Linked DNA regions of Homo sapiens. The protein of the gene in region 1 binds, or shares a complex with, the protein of each later gene. Each region holds a gene or a part of one and is shown in the gene's direction. Other genes may lie near its edges. The genes, in order: KAT5 and BRD8.

The links.
Region 2: KAT5 (region 1) and BRD8 share a complex: the UniProt entries of both Homo sapiens proteins name them as parts of the SWR1-like complex.

The regions. Positions count from the first base shown.
Region 1 is NC_000011.10:65,715,252-65,717,778, forward strand, and holds part of KAT5 (histone acetyltransferase KAT5), read left to right. Parts: intron 1-1,415; coding exon 1,416-1,556; intron 1,557-1,637; coding exon 1,638-1,731; coding exon of another isoform or gene 1,732-1,735; intron 1,736-2,421; exon of another isoform or gene 2,422-2,527. UniProt on the Homo sapiens protein: Catalytic subunit of the NuA4 histone acetyltransferase complex, a multiprotein complex involved in transcriptional activation of select genes principally by acetylation of nucleosomal histones H2A and H4.
Region 2 is NC_000005.10:138,161,427-138,165,445, reverse strand, and holds part of BRD8 (bromodomain-containing protein 8), read left to right. Parts: intron 1-279; coding exon 280-732; intron 733-1,032; coding exon 1,033-1,126; intron 1,127-1,312; coding exon 1,313-1,359; intron 1,360-2,101; coding exon 2,102-2,316; intron 2,317-3,299; coding exon 3,300-3,392; intron 3,393-3,581; coding exon 3,582-3,650; intron 3,651-4,019. UniProt on the Homo sapiens protein: May act as a coactivator during transcriptional activation by hormone-activated nuclear receptors (NR). Isoform 2 stimulates transcriptional activation by AR/DHTR, ESR1/NR3A1, RXRA/NR2B1 and THRB/ERBA2.

The DNA.
Region 1 (2,527 bases):
GCAGTGGTGTTCTGAAGAGTAGGCATGGATGCACAAAGGTGGTCTTTGTGAAAGGCAGAGATCATTCTGGTTGGGAGGCAGAAAAGGGAGGATGAGGGAAGGCTCGTACATGGGACAGAGCTTAGGTGATGAAGATGCTGTGTTAACCACCATTTTGTAATTATTAATGTGGACCTGGGCATCCAAGTGGCAGTACCCAGCAGCAGGCGGTTAAAAAGCAATTCCTGGGCTGGGCACGGTGGCTCACACCTGTAATCCCAGCACTTTGGGAGGCTGAGGCGGGCGGATCACAAGGTCAGGAGATCGAGACCATCCTGGCTAACACGGTTAAACCCTGTCTCTACTAAAAAGTACAAAAAATTAGCTGGGCGTGGTGGCGGGTGCCTGTAATCCCAGCTACTCGGGAGGCTGAGGCAGGAGAATGGCGTGAACCCAGGAGGCAGAGTTTGCAGTGAGCCGAGATTGCACCACTGCATTCCAGCCTGGGAGACAGCAAGACTTCGTGTAAAAAAAATAAATAAATAAAAAGCAATTTCTGGCTGGGCACAGTGGCTCATACCTGTAACCCCAGCACTTTGGGAGGCCAAGGTGGGCCAATCACTTGAGCCCAGAATTTCGAGACCAGCCTGGGCAACATGGAGAAACCCCCAGGTACTCGGGAGGCTGAGTTGGGAGAATCACCTGAGCCTGGGAAGTCAAGGCTGCAGTGACCCACGATTGCATGATTGCACCACTGCACTCCAGCCTGGGTGACAGGAGTGAGACCCTGTGTCAAAAAAAAAAAAAAAAAACCCACAATGTCTGAAATGCAGGAGAAATCGTGTGCAGAAGTAAAGCAGCAGGATTCATAATTTTGCTGGGGTAAACCCTAAGGCAGTTATTTTGTTAAATTCCAGAATTCCTTAACTCTGTTGTAGAGTAGCAGATCAGTTCCCAGGAGGTGTGACTGTGGATGTAGAATGTTAGGTTTTTTAACAGCTAGACTCCCAAGACTGTTAGATAGGGAGTCAGTGGTCAGAGTCTCACTTTGGACACATTAGTTTGAGGAGCCGTGGTCAGAGTCTCACTTTGGACACATTAGTTCGTTGGCTGCTGTTAAAAAACATTAAAAGGCAGTGGTCTCTCCTGGTCAGGCTTAGAATGGAGGTGTGCGGAGCAAGGCGGGAAACTTGCCTGACTGAGCAGGGAGGCACTCAGACACCATCACACATCTGGCACACAGGCTTTTCAACACTGAGGAGCAGCCCTGCCTAAGCTGCGGGCTGGTGGAGTGGGTCAGGCCCAGCCAGGGAAGAACACTCATCACCTAGCAGCCTGGGGCATAGCACGAACAGTGAAGCTCCTGGTTGACCCTGAACCACTGGCCAGGCTCAAGGCGGGATACCCAGAGTGGTGACAAGCCTTTTCTCTTGCAGAGTTATTCCCAGAACCTGTGTCTTTTGGCCAAGTGTTTCCTTGACCATAAGACACTGTACTATGACACAGACCCTTTCCTCTTCTACGTCATGACAGAGTATGACTGTAAGGGCTTCCACATCGTGGGCTACTTCTCCAAGGTCAGTGCCTGCCCAAGCTGTCCCTGTGCCCTGTCCTGAGCCAGATCCCTTCCCTGACACTCACCTGTCCCCCTTCTCCAGGAGAAAGAATCAACGGAAGACTACAATGTGGCCTGCATCCTAACCCTGCCTCCCTACCAGCGCCGGGGCTACGGCAAGCTGCTGATCGAGTTCAGTGAGTATGTGTGCTGCGGCCAGGGGGTAGTGGACCCACTATCGGTGCCTCACAGGCAGATGGGCCAGGCTACTGTGATTCTCAACCCTGGCTGTGCAGCCCAGCCTCTAGGGGAACCAGCCAGAAATAACAGTGGCACTCTCCCGGGGTTCTCTCCGTTCAGGCTGACTGCCCTGCTTATCTGGGGTAGGTTCTCAGCCCCCCAGTTTGCTCCTTGGCCAGGGTTCTAAGTGCCACTCAGCTTTCCCCAAATCTGACTTACGTGCTCCTGCCTGGAGCCATGGGCAGAAGGTTAGTGAGCCGCTGGTGCTGATGTATCTGGTAACGTGTGCCATGATACGAGTACTGGGGCAAGGACCAGTGGCTAATGTCCCCAGTTGTCCCCTGAGCCTTGCAGGCAGGTATCCAAAATGCTGTCAGCAGATAGACATAAGCATGTTGTCCCTCGCTCCTTGTGTCCAGTGAGGTCAGTCTCTTAAAGCCAGAAGGGACTCTGAACTTCATCACACATGGGCTCTTCAGTGCCCTCCCCAACCCTGAGGCCCCTTCTTCCCAGCCTCTTACTCCCCATCACCCCCCATTCTGTCTGTCTCACCACTCACTTGGAATAACCAAGCTCTGACCTGAGAAACAAGGAGGAAGTTCTAGCTGTTGACCTGGTGAAGACACAGAGGCTTTACCTGATCAAGGTTATGGTCCATTCGAGAAATTTTATTGGTTAAATGATGCCCAGATGGGGTCACATCCTCAGAACTTCTCAGCCTGGTAGCACAAGTGGATGCTTGAAGAAACTCAG
Region 2 (4,019 bases), on another chromosome or scaffold:
CTGCTTTGCTTCTTACAGTAAGAATTACTTAAACAACTCTCCTACTTCTGCCCATCTCCATCTTTGTAGCCCTTTGGTGCTAACATACTAGTCATCTCCTCAGGTCTACCCATGTTACTGGTTTGCACAGGACAGGTGCCTCTTCATTGTTTGCCTCCACTACATGGAAAAAATGGAGCGAAAAGCTGCAGATTCAAGCCATCACATTTGGTGCTAACAAAAATTGAAGGACTTGGGCTTCTTTCTGTGACCTCAATAGTCTTGTGTTTTGTGGGACAGGTAGATGATCATCCTGAAGTGCTGGATGTGGCAGCAGTGGAAGCAGCACTGTCATTTTGTGAAGAAAATGATGATCCTCAGTCCCTGCCTGGCCCCTGGGAGCATCCTATCCAGCAGGAGCGGGACAAGCCAGTACCTCTCCCTGCACCAGAAATGACGGTCAAGCAAGAGAGACTGGACTTTGAGGAAACGGAAAACAAGGGAATACATGAACTGGTGGACATCAGGGAGCCCAGTGCAGAGATCAAGGTGGAACCTGCAGAACCAGAGCCAGTCATTTCAGGAGCCGAAATAGTAGCTGGAGTTGTTCCAGCCACAAGTATGGAGCCACCAGAACTCAGGAGTCAGGACTTAGATGAGGAACTGGGAAGTACTGCAGCTGGAGAGATTGTTGAAGCAGATGTTGCCATTGGGAAAGGCGATGAGACTCCACTTACAAATGTGAAGACAGAGGTACTTAAGAAAGATCGGGGCTGGGGAGATGGAGGTTTATACCTTAGATAAGAAGTGACAGCTTAGGCTTTTTGGTTTTCCAGTTGCATTCCTGAGTTCTGACATGTTTGATGTGTCCAAAGCCCATAGGCTGTGATTAGTGTTATATATACTTATTCCTGTTAAGGTGACCATTGGAGTCACATTACATGAGTAGGACTTAGAATTTCTTCTATGGTCTCATTATCACTGAAGAATAAAGTTGTGTGAGCTATAGCGATTTATCAGTACTTAGGGTGTTTTTTCTTTTCTGGTTTTCAGGCATCCCCTGAAAGCATGTTGTCTCCATCACATGGCTCAAATCCCATTGAAGATCCTTTAGAGGCAGAGACTCAGCACAAGTTTGAAATGTCAGGTAAATAAAGTCCTCTTTCACTGACTTGAAATCATTTGCTTTGGCTTCTGAGGGGTTGTGGGTTGTGGGCAAGTAGAGGAGGTAGAACAGGTCAGCATGTAAAGGAGAGCTGCAGGGGATTATGGTCCATAGGAAGGGGAAGGCTAAGGTGGAAAAATCTTCAGGTAGTCTTTCTCTCCTCTGCAGACTCATTGAAAGAAGAATCAGGGACTATTTTTGGAAGCCAGATAAAGGTATTTCAGACTTTTCTTTATTCCTCTTGCCATGTGATTAGATTTCCCTATAGCACTACTTTTTAATGAATTTCAGTAAAGTCACATCTTTATTCTCTGATAAGAGACTGGTATGGAGTTGCATGGGGAAAAGCTGCAGTAGACAGGCATAATGGGAGTACTATAGCAACAGGTGCCTCCCATATGAAACAGCATGTGAATATCACACAGTCCTTAAGAAGGCTTGATACACTTAGAGTGATTTGTAGTGAATAAGGATACCTGAGCCAAGGAGAACATACAGGAATCAAGTTTATTAATTAGACTATCCAAAGAGAATCATCCAGAGTTTTCTTTTTAGAATTATTAAAGCAGCAGTAACAGAGGCTTAAAGAATGTGATGTGAGCTTGCTCCATCAAATGAGACACAAAATAAAAATTATTTTTGATAACTTTGTACCCAGGGTCAGAGTTACTCTCGAGCAAGGGGAAAGAAGGAACGCCTCTTAGCTTAGTCTTAAGTAAGTAGCTTTTTTTTTTCTTTCTTTTTAAAAGATCCTGGGTATTATTCTTTGTCCAGGTTCTAAATTACTTAACGCAGTGTCTGTAAGTAGATGGTAGTATAAGTGATAGACAGCTGAGTCAGGAAACAGCGTGAGGTCATTTCTAGAACTAATTCTAACCCAAAAGACAGATCATGTTTAATGATGCTTTGCTGGATAGCTTTGCTTGCATTTGTTAACTGGAGCATACTGTATCTAAGGATGCCCCAGGTGAGGATGAGGAGGAAGATGGTGTCAGTGAAGCGGCCAGCCTAGAGGAGCCTAAGGAAGAGGATCAAGGAGAAGGCTACTTGTCAGAAATGGATAATGAACCTCCTGTGAGCGAGAGTGATGATGGCTTCAGCATACACAATGCTACACTGCAGTCACACACACTGGCAGACTCCATCCCCAGCAGCCCTGCTTCTTCACAGTTGTGAGTATCTGAGATTCTTTCTTTGAGGCCAAGGCAGTGAAGGTGAGGAGAGGATCTTTTCCTTCCTTCCTTCCTTCCTGTCTTTTCTCTTTTCTTTTCTTTTCCCTTTCCTTTCCTTTCCTTTCCTTCTCTTTTTTCTTGTTCTCACTCACCCATGCTGGAGGGCAGTGGTGCGATCTCAGCTCACTGCAACCTCCACTTCTCAGGCCCAAGCAATCCTTCCACCTCAGCCTCCTTAGTAGCTGGGACTACCAGCCTGTGCCACCACACCCTGCTAATTAAAAAAAATTTTTTTAGTAGAAACCAAGTTTTGCTACATTGCCCAGGCTGGTCTCAAACTCCTGAGCTCAAGCGTTCCACCTGCCTCGGCCTCCCAAAGTGCTGAGATTACAGGCGTGAGACACCATGCCTGGCCTTTTTCTTTATTTTTAAATTTTTATTTTAAAAAAATTTTTTTAAGGGACAGGATCTATGTGGTCCAGTCTGGTCTTGAACTCCTGACCTCAAGCAGTCTTCTTGCCTTGACCTCCCAAAGCAGTAGAATTAGAGGCATGAGCCACCATGCCTGGCCTGATCTTTTCTTTAGTGTTTCCCTTTTTTGACCTGGAATAAACAGCTGACAAGAAATAATTAGGGCTGGGCATAGTGGCTCACACCTGTAATCCCAGCACTTTGGGAGGCTAAGGCAGGAGGATCGCTGGAACCCAGGAGTTCGAGACCAGCCTGGGCAACACAGTGAGACCCTATCTCTACAAAAAAATTAAAAAATTAGCTGGGCATGGTGGTATGCACCTATAGTCCCAGCTACTTGGGAGGCTGAGGTGAGAGGATTGAGTCTGGGAGGTTGAGGGTGCAATGAACATGATCATGCCACTGCACTCCAGCCTGGGGGACAGAGTGAGACCCTGTCTCAAAAAGAAAAGAGAATTATAATTTTTATTTTTTAACTTGTGCCTAGTGGAATTGCTGTATCTCTGTTTCAGCTCTGTCTGTAGTGAGGATCAGGAAGCTATTCAGGCACAGAAAATTTGGAAGAAAGCCATCATGCTTGTATGGAGAGCTGCAGCTAATCATAGGTGAGTGGGCTTTACCAGTCAGTAGGTTCATTTTCTCCTACTCTTCATTGTTGGTGACTGGAAAAAAGTCTGAGTAGGCTTCTGTGGAACTGCTGGTATTAGTTCTTACTACCTTTAGTTACTTAGAGTAAGTTCCCTCCCTGCACTTCTGGAGAATGTCAGTAATTGCACCTTATTCCTTTTGGACAGGTATGCCAATGTCTTCCTGCAGCCTGTTACAGATGACATAGCACCTGGCTACCACAGCATTGTGCAGAGGTGAGCCATGGTCCACCCAGCATGGTAACTTGCCTGAATTATAAATTGTCCAGTCTTAGTGAAGTTTTGCTTTCGATAGAAAGTTTAAAGCAAGTAAGTTTATGGTTTTGCTATAAGGGGCACTGAGTGCTAAACTGATAATTCCAGTGGCTAGATCACCACTGATAGTCTAAAAGAATAAATCTCCACCAGGAGCGGTGGCTCACGCCTGTAATCTTTGGGGGTGCTGAGGTGGGTGAATCACTTGAGCCCAGGAATTCAAGACTAGCCTGGGCAACATGGCGAAACCCCCTCTCTACAGAAAATACAAGACTTAGCCAGGTGTGGTGTCGCGCATTTGTAGTCCCAACTACCTGGGAGGCTGAGGTG